Homo sapiens: one gene and its partners. The protein of the gene in region 2 interacts with the protein of the main gene of each other region in a pairwise test. Each region holds a gene or a part of one and is shown on either strand. Other genes may lie near its edges.

Region 1 (7,020 bases), on a different chromosome or scaffold from region 2:
CAGCAAAACCAAAGGTGTGAACTCAAGAGGATCCCAGAGCAGGCTCTGCAGAAGGCCTCTAGAGGGGATGGGGAGGGGGGTCTGACCCGGGCCTGCCTGAAGGGAGCCCTTGAGGATGCTGGGCTCACACAGAAGGGCGTTCAAGGTGGAAGGAACCACATGCGCAAGAGCCTTAGAGTGGGAGCCAGGGGCAGTGCCGGGGTCGGGGCTAGGCTTGGCTGGCACGGGGTGTTTTCTGAGGATTCCAGGCAGGACCACTGAGGCCGTTCCCCTGCAGCAGCAGGAAGTGCCTGAGAGTTCTGAGTGTGAGAGGGACTTGGGCTGGGGAGGCAGAGCTGTCCAGGAGGGGCTGCTGCAAGATGGAGAAAAACAGCCTCCCTGGACCCTCAAGGGCGGAGGACAGTGACAGCACAAACCAGTGGCTGGTTTGCAGAGAGGACCAGACCTTCCCCATGCAGATCAGTTCACATTGTCTCTGTACTGAACAGCCCTGAGAAGGGGTGTTCCATCCATTCAGTCCTCTCTGGGGGCTTCTTGGGGTGATGAGAACAGGATGCCCCAAGTAGGGGCTCTACCACAGGCCTAACAGGTACCAGGCTGCGTCACCTCATTCCCCAGAGGAGCCAAGAGCGGAGGCTGCCCAGAGTGTCCAGCACGGTCTCTCCCCTTCAGGAACATGACATCGAGACACCCTACGGCCTTCTGCATGTAGTGATCCGGGGCTCCCCCAAGGGGAACCGCCCAGCCATCCTCACCTACCATGATGTGGGCCTCAACCGTAAGTGCAGCCCAGCCTCAGTCAGCCCTCCTCTGCCTCCCATCAGCCAGAGCGGTGAGGCCCCCCACCCTCCCCACAGGGCCCTGTCAGCCCCACTCACACTCACCTCTGTTGCCTTCGCCCTCCGGGCCTCCATTTCCCCGACGGACCCGAGGCTTACACTTCTGCCTTGCCTGCCCTCTGGGGGCCCGGCCTTCCTTCCAGTCCCCCGGCCCCTCTGCTCAGCCATAGTGGAAGTGTGTCTTTGCAGACAAACTATGCTTCAACACCTTCTTCAACTTCGAGGACATGCAGGAGATCACCAAGCACTTTGTGGTGTGTCACGTGGATGCCCCTGGACAACAGGTGGGGGCGTCGCAGTTTCCTCAGGGGTAGGTACCCTGAGCCCCCTCTGCCTGTCTCCAGCTCTGCACCTGAGGCCACACCTGGGCCCTGACCTCCTGCTCTGCCTGCAGGTACCAGTTCCCCTCCATGGAGCAGCTGGCTGCCATGCTCCCCAGCGTGGTGCAGCATTTCGGGTGAGTCCCCGCACAGCCCCTGCGCTAGGGCCCAGGGGTGCCTACCCCAACTGCAGAGCCACCTGGCTCCAGCTGAGGGCTTCAGGCTATGGGCAGGGCCTGCTCTGGATGACATGTATGGGAAATGGCACCCCTAGCCCTAGAGTGACCAGCCTGCTCTGCACCAGGTTCAAGTATGTGATTGGCATCGGAGTGGGCGCCGGAGCCTATGTGCTGGCCAAGTTTGCAGTGAGTCTCCCCATGCCCCCATTACCCCAAACACCAGGGCAAGCCAGGGATGTCCCAGTGGTGGGGACTGGGGGGAACCCTTCAGCCTTGAGGAAGTGTCCCTGCTCTCGCTTCTCCTCCTCCCACCTCCTCTTTATGTAGAAAACCTCTTTTTTCTTTTTTCCTCCAGGGAAATTAACTTTTTTAAAAAAGAGGTTCCTTTCTCCATATAGTTTTCTCAAGAGACTAGAAACTATAACTTGCTTAAACTATTATCCAAAGCCAGAATTTCTAGTAGCAACAAACTATACAACTAACTGCTCTAGCCACTAAATAAGGATCGTCCTTCACTAATTGCCATGGTATTTCAACATGAATAATTTTTTTAGCAAAAAATTTTATTATGGTTGGGAGGTTTAAAGAAGGCACATTTCAAAAACATCATTGTCGGTGGCTCACACCTGTAATCCCAGCACTTTGGGAGGCCAAGGTGGGCAGATCACGAGGTCAGGAGATCAAGACCATCCTGGCTAACACGGTGAAACCCAGTCTCTACTAAAAATACAAAAAATTAGCCGGGCGTAGTGGCGGGCGCCTGTAGTCCCAGCTACTCGGGAGGCTGAGGCAGGAGAAAGGCGTGAACCCGGGAGGCGGAGCTTGCAGTGAGCTGAGATCGCGCCACTGCACTCCAGCCTGGGCAACAGAGCGAGACTCTGTCTCAAAAAAATAAAAAAATAAAAAAAATCATTGTTGGGTAGGAATTCACAAGCTTTTCATCTCTAAAAACAAGCAAAAAAAAAAAAAACAAAAACCCAAAAGACTAATTTTTCACGATCGAAGACATTTACTACTTCAAAAGAAATGACCAAGAATTTTCAACTCCAGTTGCAATGTCAGCACTTAATCATTTTGTTAACTGGAGGCCATTCCCTGCCACCCTAGACAAGCTTGATGTGGTTATGCTGTTTTTCTTTAAGCACAGTCTAACAGTTGAAAAGAAAATACCTCTTTTGCAATGCCTACGGCAAAACAGACTTTGAAAAGGTTGTTTTTTTCTTAATTTATATCATGAGGGCTTCATTTTCTTTTTTTTTTTTTTTTTTTTTTTTTTGAGATGGAGTCTTGCTCTGTCGTCCAGGCTGGAGTGCAGTGGCATGATCTCGGCCCACTGCAACCTCCACCTCCCTGGTTCAAGCAATTCTCCTGCCTCAGCCTCCTAAGTAGCTGAGACTACAGGTGCATGCCACCACGCCTGGCTAATTTTTGTATTTTTATTAGAGACAGGGCTTCACCATGTTGGCTAGGCTGGTCTCGTATGCCTGACCTCAGGTGATCAGCCCGCCTTGGCCTCCCAAAGTGCTGGGATTACAGGCGTGAGCCACGGCGCCTGGCCAGGGCTTCATTCTCTATAAAAGCAAAAAAACAACATGCTTAAGATTTTAAGATGTTTAATACTCAATTTTGCACTTCAAAAATATATTAAGAGCTGATTCTGTTGAAAGAGCGTGTGTGTGTGTGTGTGTGTGTGTCTGTGTGTGTGTAGGGGTGGAAACAATGATAGAGATTCTAAATAAATCCAAGAACTGTGAAGGGTTCAGTGAGAGGAGGACAGGCAGGGGCATCTGGACATGGGTGTGCATGCACAGACCCGGCTGTAGCCGGGTGGCTGATCAGCAGCACCTTGAAGACTTTACAGAGTGTTTCTGCCATCTGCACCCATCCTGGCCCCGCCCGGCCCTGTTTCCCCTCTTACTGCAGCTCATCTTCCCCGACCTGGTGGAGGGGCTGGTGCTGGTGAACATCGACCCCAATGGCAAAGGCTGGATAGACTGGGCTGCCACCAAGGTGTGTGTGGTGACCGGGGGTGGGGTGGGTATACCTAGGGTGGGGTGAGGGGCGGCACTCACGCTGGCGCCCTGCTCCCTGCAGCTCTCCGGCCTAACTAGCACTTTACCCGACACGGTGCTCTCCCACCTCTTCAGCCAGGTAAGGGGGGGAACTTCTGCAGATCTGGGGTGATCTGGGATTTGCCCCTCCCAGCTGGCTCGGTAGGAGGCAGGCGGGTGTCTTTGGCATCTGACCTGGCTCACTCCAGATGCTAAGCCATCTGAAAGACAGACATCCCCTCCCAAGGCCCCACACCTCCTACCTGCCCCCACCCTGTCTCCCCTGCCTGCTGAGTGGGGCAAGGGCCACTCTGGCAGTGACATCTGCCAGCCCCCTCTAAGCCTGCGTCCCTCTGTCTGCCCCTCTGCATGCCTCCATCCATCTCCCTGGGCCTAGGAGGAGCTGGTGAACAACACAGAGTTGGTGCAGAGCTACCGGCAGCAGATTGGGAACGTGGTGAACCAGGCCAACCTGCAGCTCTTCTGGAACATGTACAACAGGTGCGGGTGGGATCAGCAGCCCTGGGACCCAGCACACCCCAGTGGGGGCCCTTGCACACTGCCCCCTGAGGGAGGCAGGCAGACAACACCCTTGCCCTGGTTTGTAGATGGGCACGATATTGGGCCTCAAAGGAGGTCATTTCCTGCACAAGGTCACACCCTGTGAGGGGCAGAGGGGAACAGGGTTTCAGACTCCGGGCCTTGGGCTCTTCCACTTTTCCTCCTCCCCTGGGGGCTTCCCGCTTGGGAATGTTGGGGGTGTTAGTGACATCCCTGACTCCAGTAACCCAGCCTTGATGTTGACGTCTGCAAAATGAGGAAGAGGTCGGATGAGCCTGTGGTTTTCAAGCTGTGCTCCTTGGAGCCCCCTTTAGGGGCTGCCCTGCCCTGCAGGAAGGTGGCCAGGCCCCCTCACTCACGTGCCCTCCTTCTCATTCTTCTACAAATATTAAGCACCTGCTGTGTGCATGGTGCTAAGAAAACAAAACAATAGAGAATAGAGAGACCCAGGGCCTGCCATCCCATATGGTCCAGGAGACAGGCCAGTAGCAGAAACTCCCACAGCACAGGTGGCGGTGCGCATGGCTCTGAGGGGGATAGAGAGCAAAATTTGAGAGCCCACCTGGTATGTGCTAGGGAGTCCAAAAAGCCGTGACAGGGAGCCTCCAGTTCATTTATGCAGAGCAGGTCCACGCCTCCCTGCTTTACCAATTGGCAGTGTTGGGCTTGGGATGCCCCTCATCCTGTCCTGGGGTGCCCACCTCTGCCTCTGCCCCTCCCCCTGCCCCACAGCCGCAGAGACCTGGACATTAACCGGCCTGGAACGGTGCCCAATGCCAAGACGCTCCGGTGAGTGGCCCCTGGCCCTCTGGCCTGCCCTGGCCTTTGCCCCCATGACCCAGCCAGACAGCCCTTTTCCTCTGTATCTGCAGCTGCCCCGTGATGCTGGTGGTTGGGGATAATGCACCCGCTGAGGACGGGGTGGTAAGTGAGGGGCTGTGGGCTCACTGGGGGTGGGAGGTAGGGGTGAGGGGCTCACTGGCCCCTGCCCAGCAGGGACAATTCTTGATCCAGCCCAGGGGAGCCTCCAGGGCCAGCAGTGGACGGTGGGCTTCTTGTCCACTTTCCCACAGTCTTGCCAAGCCTCACATCTGGCATAGCCCCCATCCTTCTGGCTGGGGAGGCCTGGAAATGGGGAGAGCTGGGGCCAGGGCTGGGCCATCAGAAGGTCCCCTCTTCCCTCCCCAGCAGCACAGCCCCAACTTGGTCCCTACCCACCTCAGGCCCAGGGTGTACGATCTTTTTTCTAAAATGTGATCAAGCCATTATAAATCATTAACGCATACAGCGGCACGGTCTCCCTTTTCCCGTCACCTGCAGCGGTTATGTTTGGGGGCCGTGTGTCACCTCTCCTGCTGGAACTCTGGGAGCAGGTGGCCTGAGGCTGGGATGCCCCATCAGCACAGAGCTGCTGGGAAGCTGCAGGGTCCAGAAGTGCCCAGAGCAGCCCCGTGCGCCCTGAAAATACCAGGCTTTCCCATGCCCACTGGGAGGTCCTGGAAGAGCAGGGTGGTGGGCTGTGCCAGCCCCCTCCACCCAGTCTCTCTCAGACCCTCGGCACCCCTCACCTCACTGCCGAGGGCACTGGGGCTTTCCCAGGCCAGTCCCACCACGGCAGCCCAGCCCTCGCCTGACTCCCACTCCTAGCAGTTGTGAGTGGGCTCCAAGGGTCCCAGGCCCTTCAGTGGGGCTGTTAAACTGGTCTCCAAGAACATGGGGAGCCCTGGGAGAAGAAAGCCTGGGAGGAGCAGCCTGTCACAGCTGCTGGGCCTCCCTCTGCCTCCCTGCACCCCCTCTCCTCCCCGAGCTTGGGGCATCAAACCTGCCTTGGCAATGGGGGTGGGGAGGGGCAGGGGCTGTTGCTGAAGCTGGCTCCTTGTCCTCAGGTGGAGTGCAACTCCAAACTGGACCCGACCACTACGACCTTCCTGAAGGTGAGGCTTTCTTCCCCAGCCCTGGGCCAGCTTCCCTAGCATGGGCCCAACCTCAGGGAGGTGTTTTCCTGGGGTCCCAGCCAGGGTGGGAGCTTGTCCTGGAGTGAGGGCCCTGCTCAGGTCACCCCACTCTCTCCCTTGCAGATGGCAGACTCTGGAGGGCTGCCCCAGGTCACACAGGTGAGACTTTTGGCCCTCCTGCCCTTACATCTATGGGGAGGGGGAAGCCTCTACCCTACCTGCTAATCCTAGGCAGCCAATGAAAGCATGTGCTTGTCCTGCCCTCCGCAGCCAGGGAAGCTGACTGAAGCCTTCAAATACTTCCTGCAAGGCATGGGCTACAGTGAGTACATTTCCACCCCACCCCACACCACCTAGAGACCGGTGGGCAGGCAGTGCTGGGGTTGGGGCTCCTGTTTGCAGGGCTGGCACGTGGTGTCAGGTGGTAGTAGGGAGCCCATAAGCATAGGAGTTTTGTGTGACCTGGGCCCCGGATGCTGGGCCCCACAGATGCCACCTGAGTTGCAAGTTGGCCATCCCAGGCTGTGCCCAACTCCCCTTTGCCCTTAGGGAGGACTTGGCGCACTGTTCTGATGGCAGTGCTGGGCCTACTGGGGGAAGGGACTCTTCCTTCCGTGCTGGGGGTCCAGGGCCAGGGGCCGTGTCCTGCCAGGGAAGCCTGTCTGGGGGTGAGGCACACTCCCCTCACCCGCCCCAGGGCTTGGGGTCAGAGCTGGGTCTATGGCACCTGAGAAGGCCTTTTGAAACAACTCATGGCTGCACCCAGGGGCATCATAGGAGTGGGCTTGGAGTTTGGGGCCAGGGAAGGCAACTGGGGCCGCCTGGCATTCAGAGAGCTGAAAGCAGCTGAACCTGGCTTGGCAGATCTGAAAATCTGGGTCTGGGGTGGAACCAGGTACACACACACAGACACACACACACACACACACAACACACCCCTTGTGTGTCTCCTTGACTTCCCCCTTCCCTCCAAGACATACCTGTTCCTCCAGGTCCCCACTGCCAGGAGGCAAACTTCCTCTTCTCAGTTTGTTTTTTGTTCCCCTCCAGACTTCAGCCTCTGGAGCTATCTCCAGGGCAAACAGGAGGGCTGCCTGTGGGAAGGCTGGGGAGGA
Region 2 (7,730 bases):
CTCCCCTCTCTTGGCAGTGCTCTGTTTCCTGTGGGGATGGCATCCAGCGCCGGCGTGACACCTGCCTCGGACCCCAGGCCCAGGCGCCTGTGCCAGCTGATTTCTGCCAGCACTTGCCCAAGCCGGTGACTGTGCGTGGCTGCTGGGCTGGGCCCTGTGTGGGACAGGGTACGCCCAGCCTGGTGCCCCACGAAGAAGCCGCTGCTCCAGGACGGACCACAGCCACCCCTGCTGGTGCCTCCCTGGAGTGGTCCCAGGCCCGGGGCCTGCTCTTCTCCCCGGCTCCCCAGCCTCGGCGGCTCCTGCCCGGGCCCCAGGAAAACTCAGTGCAGTCCAGTTATGTCCTGTCCTCCTTCCTGTCAGGCAGCTGCTGCAGGAGGGGTGGGCAAAGGCATCTTCCTCTGGGAAGGACTGGCACAAGCACTTGGTCCCTGGGTTGTGTGCCTGGGAGGCCGGGATCAGGGCTGGCCCTCTTTCTCCCTGGCAAAGCAAAACCTCCCTTTTACTACTATCAAGGGGAAGTAACTTGAAGGTAGGAACCCAGCTTGTGAGCCCCCTAGCCTCTGGGCTGCTCTGCATGTGCCCCCTCTTGCTGGATCATCTGGTAGCAGCCCTGTGCCCTGAGGGTGATGCTCTGACCTATGCAGCCCCCCTCCCTGTCCTGAGAAGGCTTCCAGCTGGGCCTTGGAGGACAGGGTCCACCCCTACCTCCTGGTCTCCTTCCTCAGCTTGGAAGCCCCGGAGCCTGCCCTGCTGGGAATCGGGGAAGCACTGCTTACCTGTCTCCTGCTCCCTTTTCAGGTGCCTGTGGCAGGCAGCACCTTGAGCCAACAGGAACCATTGACATGCGAGGCCCAGGGCAGGCAGACTGTGCAGTGGCCATTGGGCGGCCCCTCGGGGAGGTGGTGACCCTCCGCGTCCTTGAGAGTTCTCTCAACTGCAGTGCGGGTATGTCTAGGGCCATGCAAGCGATGCTGCCAGTTATGGGCCCTGCCAGGAGCCAGCACGACGCTGCATGCCCCATTCCTGGCAGGAGCCCATGTGCATTCCCACCTGTAGTTTGCATCCCATCTCATGACTGGGGAGTGATGATCTGCATTTTACAGATGAGGAAACTGAGGCTAGGAGAGATTAAGTGATGTGCCCAGTTACTTAGAGTCACATAGCCAGCAGTGGGAGAGGTGGGACTTGAACTCGGCTCAGTCTACCCTGGAGCCACTCCTCTGCTGACCAGGCGTGGGAGTGCTGGACCCTCACTGCCCTGCCGCTTCCTAGGGGACATGTTGCTGCTTTGGGGCCGGCTCACCTGGAGGAAGATGTGCAGGAAGCTGTTGGACATGACTTTCAGCTCCAAGACCAACACGCTGGTGGTGAGGCAGCGCTGCGGGCGGCCAGGAGGTGGGGTGCTGCTGCGGTATGGGAGCCAGCTTGCTCCTGAAACCTTCTACAGAGGTATGGCCAGGCCTTCTCCACCTCCCTTGGGTGCTCCAGTCCTGGCAGGGAGGCTGGGTGGGTGCTGCTGGGGATGGGGCCAGTCCCAGTGGGGCAGTGGGAAGATACGGAGGGAACTGACTGAGATGGAAGGAACTGGGGTTGGCCAGTGTCAGTCTGCACGTGCCAGGGAGGGGTCACAGGATGAATGCTATATCCCTCCTTTTTGGGACCGTGCAGCAAGATGGACGGATGTGGGACATGGTCCACATCCTCAGTCAGTCCCTCAGGCCTCTGCCCCACACCCACCTGCCCCGCCCCCACCCCTCCAGCCTTTCAAGGGCTTTTAGGGTTTTGTGGAAGCCACTGTCCCTCAGCCCTGTTTCAGTGCACTGGTGTAAGCAGACATGCTTGTACATGCATGTGCACCCACAAGCACACCTCAGGCAGAGGATGCCACCTCAGGGACTCCAGCCTTGCCCGTGGCCCCCTCGATATCCTCTGATAGCCCTCTCGGTTGTCCTGGGGGGCTTGCCCTCTCCCAACAGCCCGAGCTGGCCGAAGTTGGCTTCCCTAGCTGGTTCCAGAGGTTCCTCGGCTCCCCCAGGTGTCTGGGGCTTAGTGGCAACAGGGGCTTAGCCTCTGCAGAGACCTAGTGCGCCGCCTCCTTGCCCCAGACCTGCCCGGGCAGAGAGCCGTGTATGTGTCCCAGTGCACAGGCGCTGCTGGGCCCTGCCAAAAGGCCACAAGCCCACTGTCACCGTTCACATTGCTTCTCGCTTCCCGGCCCAGCCCCGCCCACACAGGCATCTGCCTTGAAAGAGGTGCAGGAGGTACAGGCAGGTGGGGGCTCCAGTGAGCTCTGAGGAACAGCAGTGGCCGCCATGGGTGGAGCCTATCTTTGTTGCCAGTTTCAGTGTTAAACACTCTTGCACGTGTGACATCATTGAGTCCTAAAGACCACTCTGCTCAGTGCATGCCATTGTTTCCTTCAGTTACAGAGGAGGGAACCAGAGCCCAGAACATTTAGCCTTTGCCTAAAGTCACTGGGCCAGGAAGTGGTAGAGGTGGGGTTCAGCAGGATTTGCCTGGGAACCCCAATATTGACCACAGTGCCATGCTGCCCTGCACGGCTCCCTGGCTGTGAGTTGTCCTGGCCTCTGGCACCACCGGTCTGTCTGGGTTCCTATGTCCCTATGTCCCACCTGCAGAATGTGACATGCAGCTCTTTGGGCCCTGGGGTGAAATCGTGAGCCCCTCGCTGAGTCCAGCCACGAGTAATGCAGGGGGCTGCCGGCTCTTCATTAATGTGGCTCCGCACGCACGGATTGCCATCCATGCCCTGGCCACCAACATGGGCGCTGGGACCGAGGGAGCCAATGCCAGCTACATCTTGGTGAGGCCCAGCATGGGGACTTGTGCTGTGATTCTGGACAGCTTTCCCTAGGGCGTGCAGGGCTAGGGGACCCCCTTCAGTTTATTTCAGACTAAAACCCTCAAAATCATTAGTGAAAGAATGGGAGAAGATAGCTTCCTCCACATATTCACCAAGAAATGTTTTTTGAGCTACCTACAAGAGTGAAATAGTGGCTCACAACTGTAATCCCAGCACTTTGGGAGGCCCAGGAGGGCAGATCACTCAAGGTCAGGAGTTCGAGACCAGCCTGGCCAACATGATGAAACCTTGTCTCTACTAAAAATAGAAAAAGTAGCCAGGCATGGTGGCGTGTGCCTGTAATCCCAGCTACTTGGGAGGCTGAGGCACAAGAATCACTTGAACCCGGGAGGTGGAGGTTGCACTAAGCCCAGATCGCACCACTGCACTCCAGCCTGGGCAACAGAGTGAGACTCTGTCTCAAAAAAAAAAAAAAAAAAAAAGCGAAATGGTAAAGAATGGTAAAGACCTTTCTGATGTAGACTGACAGCTAACCCAAGACTGAAGCATAATTTTACAGTCTGATATAACTTGGACAGAATAGCACCCTGCACCCTCCCCGAGGTTTCAAGTGTCCTGGGAGAACTGTGTTCTGCAGGGTATCAGCTTCCCCAGAGGAGGCAGCCTGGCCCCGCTCTGGCACCCTGACTGTGTGTCCTTGGGGAAGTGATGTAACGTCCCTGGACCTCGGTTTTCTGGGTAGAGTAATGGCGTATTCCTAGTAGGGCTTTGTAAGCATTAAATGTGATCCGGAATCTGTGAGCCCTTGCACACGAAGGCTTCCGTGAGTGCTAATTATTACTTGTGGCCGGTCCTTCTGGGCTGCCCCTTTTCTCTCAGATCCGGGACACCCACAGCTTGAGGACCACAGCGTTCCATGGGCAGCAGGTGCTCTACTGGGAGTCAGAGAGCAGCCAGGCTGAGATGGAGTTCAGCGAGGGCTTCCTGAAGGCTCAGGCCAGCCTGCGGGGCCAGTACTGGACCCTCCAATCATGGGTACCGGAGATGCAGGACCCTCAGTCCTGGAAGGGAAAGGAAGGAACCTGAGGGTCATTGAACATTTGTTCCGTGTCTGGCCAGCCCTGGAGGGTTGACCCCTGGTCTCAGTGCTTTCCAATTCGAACTTTTTCCAATCTTAGGTATCTACTTTAGAGTCTTCTCCAATGTCCAAAAGGCTAGGGGGTTGGAGGTGGGGACTCTGGAAAAGCAGCCCCCATTTCCTCGGGTACCAATAAATAAAACATGCAGGCTGACCGGCGTTTTTTTCTTATAAGCTGTCCAGACCTGGCTTGAAAACCCATCCCATGGCAAGGCAGGGATTCGCTGGCCGCGGTTGGCTCTATCTTGATCTGAGCAAGCCGCTGGACGTCCCTAGTTATCTTCTTCCTATCCAGGAAGAAAATCCAATCAGGATTCCACTCCGAGGATGGCGCATTAGCCAGCTCCCTGCGAAGCCCCACCCGTGTGTCCTGGTGTGAGGCTCTGACCGCTAAGGTGTCTGCGCGCCTCCAGGCCCCGCCCCCTATGCTAATAAGCGCCCGCCTCCTTTGGGAGCAAGTCGCCGCAAACTGCGAGCCCCCGCCCCCTACGCTAATGACGCCCGCCCCCCTCGGGCACACCTCTCCGATGCCTGCGAGCCCCGCCCCGTATGCTAACGAGCTCCCCACCCCCAGCTCCTCGCCGCAGCCTGCGGGTCCCGCCCCCTACAATAATGAGCACCTACCTCCCCTCAAACGCCCCTAGTCGCGGCATGAGGGTCCCGCTCACTATGTTAATGAGCACCCGCCTCCCTTCGGGCGCGCCTCGCCGCAGCCTGAAAGCCCCGCCCCCTATGCTAATATGCTCCCTCTCCCACAAGGCAGCGCGCCGGCTCGGACGCGGCCGGCTACCGAGCCCTTTGTGAGGGCTGTGAGCTGCGCCTGACGGTGGCACCATGAGCAGCTCAGGTGGGGCGCCCGGGGCGTCCGCCAGCTCTGCGCCGCCCGCGCAGGAAGAGGGCATGACGTGGTGGTACCGCTGGCTGTGTCGCCTGTCTGGGGTGCTGGGGGCAGTCTGTGAGTATCCAGTCGGGGAGAGGGGCCGGCCCCGCCGCGCATGCGCTCCTCGCCCTGCCCTGCCCCGCCCCGCCCCGGCGGCCCCAGGGGAAAGGACCCGCTGGGGGTCGGGGGTCTGCCGGGCGCCTCCCGGGGCGGAGGAATGGCGGGGCCGCCGGGAGCCGGCGTCCTGGGGTTGCCATGGTTACCCGCTCGGGCCTGGGCGCCTTGGTACCCCGGGCTGGGCTGGGCTGGCGCTTCTGGGAACATTCCCGGAGGGACCAGAAACCCCAGGGCGGGGGGGCGGCGGGGGCGGGGGTGGGGCACCGGCCTGGGGCACGTGACTGAGCCCTCCCCCCGCTCCCCAGGGGCTTTTGTGAGACTTTCTCGGTGATGCTCACGGGGCGCATGCCCACCTGGCCCGTACTAAAGCGTCAACTGTTGACTTGGGCGTAGGTGACGGCAGCCACATTGCTAACCTTTGGGCAAGGATTGTTTGTAAGGGAGGCGGGTGCACGGCTGGCTAGATTTCTGGCAGGAAGCCACTGGGCGGAAGTTTGCTGAGGGTCAGGTGGTGTCAGGGCACAGGTGGCCCCTGGGGCCGCGGGGCAGTGAGCTGAGGGCCCGGCCTCTCCCTGGGTCCTCTGTCCGCTCTCATATCTCCCCCGTTGCTGCTGCCTTAGCCGCCTGTCACCGGCCTTCCTCCCCTTCTCCGCACGCATCCCAGTCACAGACCCTGACCTTAGGCTGCCAGGGAAGCTAGGCTCTTAAGCACAGCCAGAAAAGGACAAAGAGGGAGGCAGGTCAGCTCCAGGAGTGAATGGAAGCCGTACAGCTGGCCTTCCAGGGAAAGACAAGTCTGTCTGAGTGATACCCTTTCCTTTCCTGTCTGCCCTCAATCTTGTGGATTACTGGAGTGGGCAAGGTCTTAGAGAATGTCTGTCGAGGATGTCTGCAGGTTTTAAACAGTGCCTGCCTGGCAGAGAGGGCTAGCTCTGGGCCTGGGCAGGGCAGGCCCCATCAGCAATCCTGCCAGAAGGACCACCTTTTCAGGGTCACCTTGGGTTCCACAGCCTTTCCAGGTGGGTAGAGGGTGGAGGGAGGTTGAGGCAGGAGGGTGCTGGGCTAGGAGTGTGCTGCCCTCGCTAGGCATGCCCTTATCCAGAGGCAACGGATACGGTAGGGCAGGCCCTACCCCCAAATCACAAAAAGGCCCCGAGTTTGTGTCACTGCTCTTCAGGGCAAGTACGCTTTTGACTTTGTAGGAGAGACTGGTGGGTTTGAAGTTAGGCATTGGATCCAGTCCTGTCATGTCTGGTTAGCTGTTTTCCCTGCAGATTAGGGTGGGCAGTGCAGTGGGGTGACATGGTCAGTGGTGAGAAAGGAAAGGTCCTGACTATGGCCTGTAGGCCACACCTCCTTCCTTCTTGGTCAGTGGCCCTGCCGACTCCCAGATTTGCTGTGGAGTCTTACTCAGTTCTGTGCCTCTCAAAGTGAGGTACCTCTGCCTTTCCTGGGAGTTCCTGGGGCTCTGTTGGGTCTACAGATGAAGCTTCAGGAGAAACTTGTGGCATTGCCCTGAGTTGTCAGTTGCATCTGCAGATTTTTGGGGGCATGGTTATGTGAACATCAAAATGCTGTATTACAGGGTAGAATGCAAAAATGCAGGGTGTTTTAGAGATGCGGCAGGAGTTCAGACAAGGGTTGTGTGCCGGGCTGGTCCTTGGGTAAGGTTTTCCTCCTCCAGGGTGAGGGGATCAGAGAGAGTACCTGGAGAGGGTCTACCCTGGGTCCTAAGAGCATCTGGAGGTGATACCTTGGGAGGGGACAGGATTGCATGGTGACAGCCCCCTCACGTGGAAGATATCAGCATTGAGGCCCCCAAGTGGACATCCTCCAGCCCTTTATTGCTAAAGGATTCCTGGCTGGAGCCTGCTGGTCTGGCTTGACACCTGGTCCTCCCCCAAGGCTGGCTGTGGGTTGGACAGCTGGGGTAGGGTTGGAGCTGGAGGCCAAATGCTGACTGCAGCAGGAAGCACAGCCGAGCTGTCAGGTGAGGCCAGGCACAGCAGAGAGGCAGGGAGCCGTGTCACCCTTTGGGCACTCTGCTAGGACAGGCAGGCCCCTGTGTACCTGTGGTTCTGGAACACCTTGCTGTCTGAAGGCAGATGTCTAAGGCTGTGCTGAGGAGCAGTGCAACGCTTGAGTCCTTTGTTTTAGAAGGAGACCCTGGGGGCCCATGAAGCAGTCCCATTGCAGTTCGGCTCACTTTATCTGGCTTCTTTGCCTGCTGTCTGCATAAGGTTACCTGGGAAAATGGAAAACAGCAGAATTCCAGACCCAGGTGGAGGGATCAGGTGCAGAGGAGCTGCTGCAAGTTTAATGAGCTGGGTGCTAATTGCTGCCTCCAAGGCCCCCCTCAGTGATGGCCTGGGCTTGCTCCCTGCCCAGCAGCCACCTCCTTGGACCTGCCTTGAAGGCTCCTGGAGTTCCTGGTGAAGCCAGGCTGCAGGCTGTGGGTGGAGGAGGGAGTTGGGTGCAAGAGACCCTGCTGGTGAGGTGCAGCTGGGAGGCGGGGCGTCAAGGCTGCACATCTGAGCATCAGAGAAGCCACGTTCTGGGGTGGAAAACGATGCCCCCTCCCCTTCCTGGCCTTATGGCATTTCAGCGGTGGGTGGCTGGGCTGTGGGACTTGCTCATGTGCAAGAGGAGAAACGGGTCTAGGAAGATGAAGATAGCGTGCCAGTGGCACAGGGCTGGTGAGGAAGTTAGAGCTGGAACTGCTGCTCAGTCTTACCTGGTTCCCATCTCTGTTCTGAGAGAGGCACCCC
Region 3 (7,020 bases), on a different chromosome or scaffold from region 2:
GGAGGCAGAGGTTGCAGTGAGCCAAGATCGCGCCATTGCACTCCAGCCTGGGCAACAAGAGCAAAATTCTGTCTCAAAAAAAAAAAAATCAATGCTGTAGTTCTAGGAAATTTAGATGTGGCTGTTGTCATAAATGGATCCTTTAGAATTGTGAAGACCTTCTGATTGCACTTTGGAAATTTTTAGTTAAATTTTTGGAGCATGTCTTTGGAATGTGCCCTGCAAGTCTCATGTGCTGCAACTGGTTGCATGTGATTGCCCTTGAGGTTGCAAGGGCCCTAACTCTTCTCCCATTTTGCATGCAGTGATCTGATTTGCAGGAAACTGTTGGAGCAAGAGGCGTTTCCTCTCTATGCACAGACCAATTCCAGTAGGACTTCCCCCTAGAAGTGCTCTTTAAGGAAACTCTCCTTGAATTTCTATCACTTTCAATTACCTTTTCTTTTAGAAATGTTGGGCCCCAGTTCCCCCTCAGCCACTCTGAAAGCCATTCACTATAAATATGACCAGGCAAACAAAGGAAGAAGCCACAGGTAAAGAGGAGACACCAGATGGCTAAAAGATGCTAAGCTCAGTGATTTTCTCACAGCTTATAAGCCCCTTGGCTTGGCTTTCTTTCAGTTTTACTGTGATTATTACTTTATAATTAAAGTCCATGGCTGGGTGCGGTGGCTCACGCCTGTAATCCCAGCACTTTGGGATGCCAAGGCGGGCGTATCACCTGAGGTCGGGAGTTCAAGACCAGCCTGACCAACATGAAGAAACCCCGTCTCTACTAAAAATACAAAATTAGCTGGGCGTGGTGGCGCATGCCTGTAATCCCAGCTACTCGGGAGGCTGAGGCAGGAGAATCGTTTGAACCCAGGAGATGGAGGTTGCAGTGAGCAGAGATTGTGCCACTGCACTCCAGCCTGGGCAACAAGAGTGCAACTCCATCTCAAATAAATAAATAAATAAATAAAGTAAAATAAATAAATAAAGTAAAATAAAAAATAAAGTCCACTTACTATGTAGAAGGTGATAACGTAGAGTGGTTCTTCCCATGGAAAAGCCCACATAATCTCTGGCTGCCCCTCAGCGTTGTTCCCGTGACTTCAGGGTGAAAGATGCCTGCCACCGGAGAAGTTACACAAAGTGGTTATTTTGAATGCTTATGACATTTCCATTATCCTTTGGAATTCCGTGAAATTGGAGCACATTTATTTTTCCTTAGTCTTTCTCCTGTATCATAATGAAAAGCAGTGAAAATCAGGAGGTGGCTCTTTGTCACAAATAAAAACTGCATGGGTGCTAAATGAATTTTAGATCATCAACCCAAGCAGGGACAAATTAGATTGAAATTAGGCAAAATTAACATCCATGAACACAGCAGTGAGGAAATAAGTCTTTTCAATTGAGCAGGTTCAAAGCCTTCAAGGACGGGAACTTCTAAGAGCCTCTGGGAGTGGAAAATCAAAATTCTGTGCTTTAGATTATTTCTGCCCCCTGCTGGCTATGTGGAGTAGAACAATGTATTCAGCCACTTGATTAAGAAAGTCTGCTTTTTCAAAGATAATATCCATTTATCATAGCAAAAACATAACATACCCTGATACACTAAAATTTTTCTCAGTCTCAACTTTATTGTGAAATAAATGCCTCTTTTTATATAACCTTAATCTCACTTCTTAGCTCATTTAATAGTCTTCCATGTTTTTAAAAATTGGTAAGTTTATAGGTACAATTTTTCTTGATATATGCTGAATTTTATATCTTATCCACATAGTCATAATGACTTATATCCTTTGTAAAAACTTTCCCTTTCAGAAAATTTTAATAATTGTTCCCAGGAAATCCTCTTAAGGATTTCATTTTGTGAAAAATACTTCTGGTTTGCTCAGATGTTATAAAACCTAAAGATTAAGCTGGGCACGGTGGCTCATGCCTATAATCCCAGCACTTTGGGAGGCTGAGGTGGACGGATGACCTGAGGTCAGGAGTTCGAGACCAGCCTGGCCAACATGGTGAAACCCCATCTCTACTAATAACACAAAAATTAGCCGGGCGTGGTGGCAGACGCCTGTAATCCCAGCTACTCGGGAGGCTGAGGCAGGAGAATCGCTTGAACCCCGGAGGCGGAAGTTGCAGTGAGCCGAGATCTCGCCGTTGCACTCCAGCCTGGGAGACAAGAGCAAAACTCTGTCTCAAAAAAAAAAAAAAAGAAAAAGAAAAGTCCTAAGGATTAATACTGTGTTATGAATATTCATTACATACTCAGTATTTCCAAAGTGGCTATATTGTTTCCTGCTGGTTATTCCCTCCAATATTATCTAATGAAGTTTCAACTGCTAAGTACATGGCAGTGGACAAGAAACAATGAAAAATGGGTCTCTGGGGGGCCAAAACAGATACAGAAAATCCGCGGGCACTAAATTTTGCATTTTGCTCCAGGATAAGCCTTGGGCCTTGACTCAGTCTTTAATAAGCCCAGGTTCCTCTTTTCCCTGTTCCCAGCAAGTAAAAATGGCAAAGGATACCAGGGATAGCCAGGGTAACAATAATTAATAATAACAGTAATAAGGCTGGGCACGGTGGCTCAGGTCTGTAATCCCAGCACTTTGGGAGTCTGAGGCAGGTGGATCACGAGGTTAGGAGTTCGAGACCAGCCTGGCCAACATGGTGAAACCCTGTCTCTGCTAAAAGTACAAAAATTAGCAGGGCATGGTGGCACGTGCCTGTAGTCCCAGCTATTCAGGAGGCTGAGGCAGGAGAATTACTTGAACCCAGGAGGTGGAGGTTGCAGTGAGCCAAGATCACGCCATTGCACTCCGGCCTGTGCAACAGAGCAAGACTCTATCTCAAATAAATAAATAAATAAATAAATAAATAATAACAGTAATAATAGAGTTTCTGAGCATGAGAGAAGAGATATCAAGCCATAAAGAGCAAATAGACCCTGAGAAGGAACTAAGGAACTGTATTTTTGCACAGTGATATATCTTCAACATATTATGTCTCAAATGTAGGAAGTATGTATAATACATTAAACACATTAGGGAAAGATTTACATTTTTTAAATACTGTTTTTACTTTCTCACTTAAATAAGAACATTTCAGGTATTTGGAAAACCTACATTATCCAACAATGATTATTAACAGTGGTATCACTGTCTTATTTGTTGAATTCCAAGTCATGCTTTTTTTTCTTTTAAATAGAATCCTCACTATTAAATGATCCTCTCCTTTCATTCTCTATTCTTTTTAAGTTTCCTCAAGAAATGGTTTTATTTTCTTGGCTTTGGAATGATTAGCAGGGTGTGGTGAAATTGTTGATTTACGTGTTTTTGAAACTGAATTTATTAAAACACAATCTCTGAACCTTCTTAGGATCGACACACAGTCAGGAAACCAGAAACAACAGCATCTTTGTGGCCCCTCAGAATAAAAAAGTATATGTATTGATTAAGAAGATAGCATGTTGGCCTGAGTACAGTGGCTCACGCCTGTAATCCCAACACTTTGGGAGGCTTAGGCAGGCGGATCACTTGAGGTGAGGAATTCAAGACCAGCCTAGGCAACATAGCGAGACCCTGTCTCTACAGAAAATACAAAAAAATTAAACCAGGCATTATGGCATGCACCTGTGGTTTCAGCCTCACGGGGCCCTAATGCAGGAGGATCACTTGAGCCCAGGAGGTCGAGACTGCCGTGAGTCATGATCGCACCACTGCACTCCAGCCTGGGTGATGCAGTGAGATCCCGTCTCAGAAAGAAAAAAAAAAAAGAAGATAGTATGTTGAAAAATCCTGATGATTTACCTGTTTACCCTATAAAGGTATACTTTCATGATCTAAAGTTGACAATAATGACAATAATATGTGTCATTTCAGGGCCATTGATTGTTTTAATTACCTTCTCTTTATGAAAAATATGACCAGTTAATTATAGCTCCAAATACCCCACACCAGACCCACAACAACACAGATGCACACGGGTGCACACACATACACACACACAGGCACATATTTCCCCCGTCTAGTTCTGTATTCTACTGTTAAGTCCTTATTGAGAATACTTAAAATACTCACTGTGAAGAGTGCTTTGGAAAATCTTAAATGGATAATCATAAAGGGATATTGTTTTCAGGGTGTAGCTTCCAATAGAAAAAATTGGGGGTTTGGTATTTCAATGATACTTTGGGTGTATAATCGGGAGAGGCCCCTTTATGATAGGGTTCCCATAGTTCCTGTAAAAACAAGGGTAGTGATGAATCTATTTGCCTCTCTTATAAATAACTGCTCGTTTTTCTTTCTGTTTTTCTCCTTGAAGACATGACAATGGATGAAGTCCGAGAATTTGAACGAGCCACTCAGGAAGCCACCAACAAGAAAATCGGCATTTTCCCACCTGCAATTTCTATCTCCAGCATCCCCCTGCTGCCTTCTTCCGTCCGCAGTGCGCCTTCTAGTGCTCCATCCACCCCTCTCTCCACAGACGCACCCGAATTTCTGTCCGTTCCCAAAGATCGGCCCCGGAAAAAGTCTGCCCCAGAAACTCTCACACTTCCAGACCCTGAGAAAAAAGCCACCCTGAATTTACCCGGCATGCACTCTTCAGATAAGCCATGTCGGCCCAAATCTGAGTAACTTTATATAAATATCTCATGGGGTTTTATATTTTCATTTGTTGTTGTTGTTTTTTTTTAAGAATCTTCTGATAGAGAAAAAGACTGCTTTGTCACTCAAACATGTTCCTTCGACCTTTCAGTGTGCATGTGACTCAGTAACTTCACATAGAATATGATTCCCTAAGTATGCTACACAGCATCATATTAGATGTAAGATGTAAGACTTGCAAAGGACAGAAGGAATCTTCTGTAACCACATAGCTGTATGCCAGAGAGGAAGCCTTGTTATTGGGCATTTGATGAGGTTTGGCATGGACTTCAAGGATAAATGAATGAAAACTTTGCACCACTTTTGTTACAAGGTACGGTAGAAAATAGTGAAGTCAGTTTCCTCTCATCAAATCTAAAATTCTCCAAAATACTCTCAGGCATAACATACTTAGCTGTTAAATTTTGAACTGCTAATTACTAATACTTGAATACCAATAGTTACTGAGATTCCTATTTTGTGGTTAGTCTGACTCAGGATTTGGAGCCTAATTAACTCTAAACTTTTGAAAATTTTAATCATCAAGCTATAGAGGCTCCAAGTGCAATTAATAATAACTCATTTATACCTTCCACAGAATTTAATAAAGATTCTACTTGTTTCTGTCTTTTAATAACTTTCCCCTTTTGTGCCCTTGTGGCCTCAGAAATCCTTAAGAATTGCATGGATGAATGTGACCATAACTGATTTTGGAATGGTTCAGTTTAGGAACCAAGAGGCCCAGGTGAGGCAACATCTTTTTTCTCTACAGGTACCAACAAACCTTGACTTGTCAGCTTCCATCATCAATTAAGATTCTCAGAATTTGCAATTAATTGAATAGAATTCATTTACTATCTGCCCACTCAAAGAAGTACAAGGGTAGAGTAAGCTAACTGGGCTTTAACATGGTCAGAATGTCTGGTGCATGAACTATAAAAAAGAGAACTGTCTCCCATCCCCTTCCTTGTTTTACTCTTAGTAACATCCAGAATTCCCTGGAACAGATTGCCTACCACCAGACCTTAGAAAAGACTGTCATTCTCTTGCTCCTTACTTGAAATACAAATATTGGGAATGTCACAGACATCAAGCAACTACTGTCAAGTGGGAGGAGAGAATGAGCAGAATTGCTGACTCCTATTTGTAGAGTGAAAAGGAGGAGTGATAATAGATGCCCTTCTGTCTAGCTTTCCTTTCTTCAACTAGTGGTAATGCAAGATTAGAATCAAGGTTGACAGGAGGCAAGGTCACTCACTGAAGTGACAGAAAGACAATTCTCCTTTGCTCCAAAGAGAGAAATCTGTCACCTTTGCACCTCACTGCCTTTAAACACAGACGGGAGGGCAGGCCAAATCTCAGCATTGACTTTTGTCCTCCAAGAGAGGAAGAGAAGAAGTAATTGGGCAACTTGGAGGCCCACGCCCCAGCTAGCCTTCCTGATCGTAACCTCCAACCTCAGGAAAGGGACCTTCCCAAAACACAGATCCCAAAGGAAACAAAATAGACCAAGGAGCATAATCTGCTTCTCTCACACAGCCTCTCTGCCAGTGGACCCTGCCTGCTTCCCTCTCAGTGCTCAGCACTCTGTGTAGTGTCTTTCAGGTTGATACACTCTCCCAAGGTGCAGGCGCTGGCCCCATGAGCCCAGCACCAAAGTTTTCTAAGTCATAGGTCAGACTGTCAAGATCATTTCTTTATCTATAGGTTGATATTTAGCTTAAAAAAAAAGAATAAACCTAGAACTCAAAGGAAACCTGTTGCAAATAGCTTAGATCAACAGTGTATCTCTTCCCTAAGAATGATAGTATCTTAGTAAGACACCTTCTATGCATGGTATGGAAGCATGATTTTTGCTTGTGGGAAAACCTAATATTTTATCAGACCCCTCGGACTTCTCAATCCCTCCCTCTCCACACAGTAGTACTTAATGAAAATGTTTTGCTTTAGAGAGCAAAATGCTACTTTCAGAAGACACTGAAATAGTATATGTATTTGCTTACCATTTGCAAGCTAAAATCAAGGTGGGATGGGGTCATTATTTTCACATAGAATGTATTTATTTTGTGCAGGCTGTTAAACACATCTGGCACCTAGTTTTTCCATTAAGAGCATTGCTATTTTCCCTTTTTATAAAGTAGCTTCTGCTGTCAAGGTTAACAATTCTATATGCTTTAGGAAGCTAAGTTCTAATTTCCTTTTGTGAGTTTCATTTCTTTTATAACCAGTATGTTACCACAGACATCAGTTGCAAAGCTACGATGATAGTGTGATTCTTAGCCGAAAAAAAAGCGTGTGCTCTTAAAGTATGTTCAGTTTTTCTGTCTACATATGCTTTGTGTGAGTTAAAAAGGGGGTGGGTGGTGTAAATATTCCTTTAGCTGCT

Evidence for each region. The genes of interacting proteins can lie anywhere in the genome.
Region 1: the proteins of CACFD1 (region 2) and NDRG4 interact in binary tests that used the Homo sapiens proteins (3 or more experiments, as listed by UniProt).
Region 3: the proteins of CACFD1 (region 2) and PITPNC1 interact in binary tests that used the Homo sapiens proteins (3 or more experiments, as listed by UniProt).

Annotation. Positions count from the first base shown.
Region 1 is NC_000016.10:58,503,126-58,510,145, forward strand, and holds part of NDRG4 (protein NDRG4), read left to right. Parts: intron 1-580; exon of another isoform or gene 581-618; coding exon of another isoform or gene 619-672; coding exon 673-778; intron 779-1,028; coding exon 1,029-1,149; intron 1,150-1,233; coding exon 1,234-1,296; intron 1,297-1,463; coding exon 1,464-1,524; intron 1,525-3,261; coding exon 3,262-3,348; intron 3,349-3,432; coding exon 3,433-3,489; intron 3,490-3,786; coding exon 3,787-3,890; intron 3,891-4,682; coding exon 4,683-4,739; intron 4,740-4,822; coding exon 4,823-4,874; intron 4,875-5,836; coding exon 5,837-5,884; intron 5,885-6,028; coding exon 6,029-6,064; intron 6,065-6,175; coding exon 6,176-6,227; intron 6,228-7,020. UniProt on the Homo sapiens protein: Contributes to the maintenance of intracerebral BDNF levels within the normal range, which is necessary for the preservation of spatial learning and the resistance to neuronal cell death caused by ischemic stress.
Region 2 is NC_000009.12:133,455,268-133,462,997, forward strand, and holds the start of CACFD1 (calcium channel flower homolog), read left to right. Parts: upstream 1-4,710; 5' UTR 4,711-4,799; coding exon 4,800-4,920; intron 4,921-5,173; exon of another isoform or gene 5,174-6,915; coding exon of another isoform or gene 6,916-6,952; intron 6,953-7,730. Other genes in the region: ADAMTS13 (A disintegrin and metalloproteinase with thrombospondin motifs 13 isoform 1 preproprotein), read left to right, coding at 18-336, 802-948, 1,276-1,452, 2,643-2,827, 3,707-3,913. UniProt on the Homo sapiens protein: Transmembrane protein which mediates synaptic endocytosis and fitness-based cell culling.
Region 3 is NC_000017.11:67,688,264-67,695,283, forward strand, and holds part of PITPNC1 (cytoplasmic phosphatidylinositol transfer protein 1), read left to right. Parts: intron 1-1,007; exon of another isoform or gene 1,008-1,110; intron 1,111-4,308; coding exon 4,309-4,625; 3' UTR 4,626-7,020.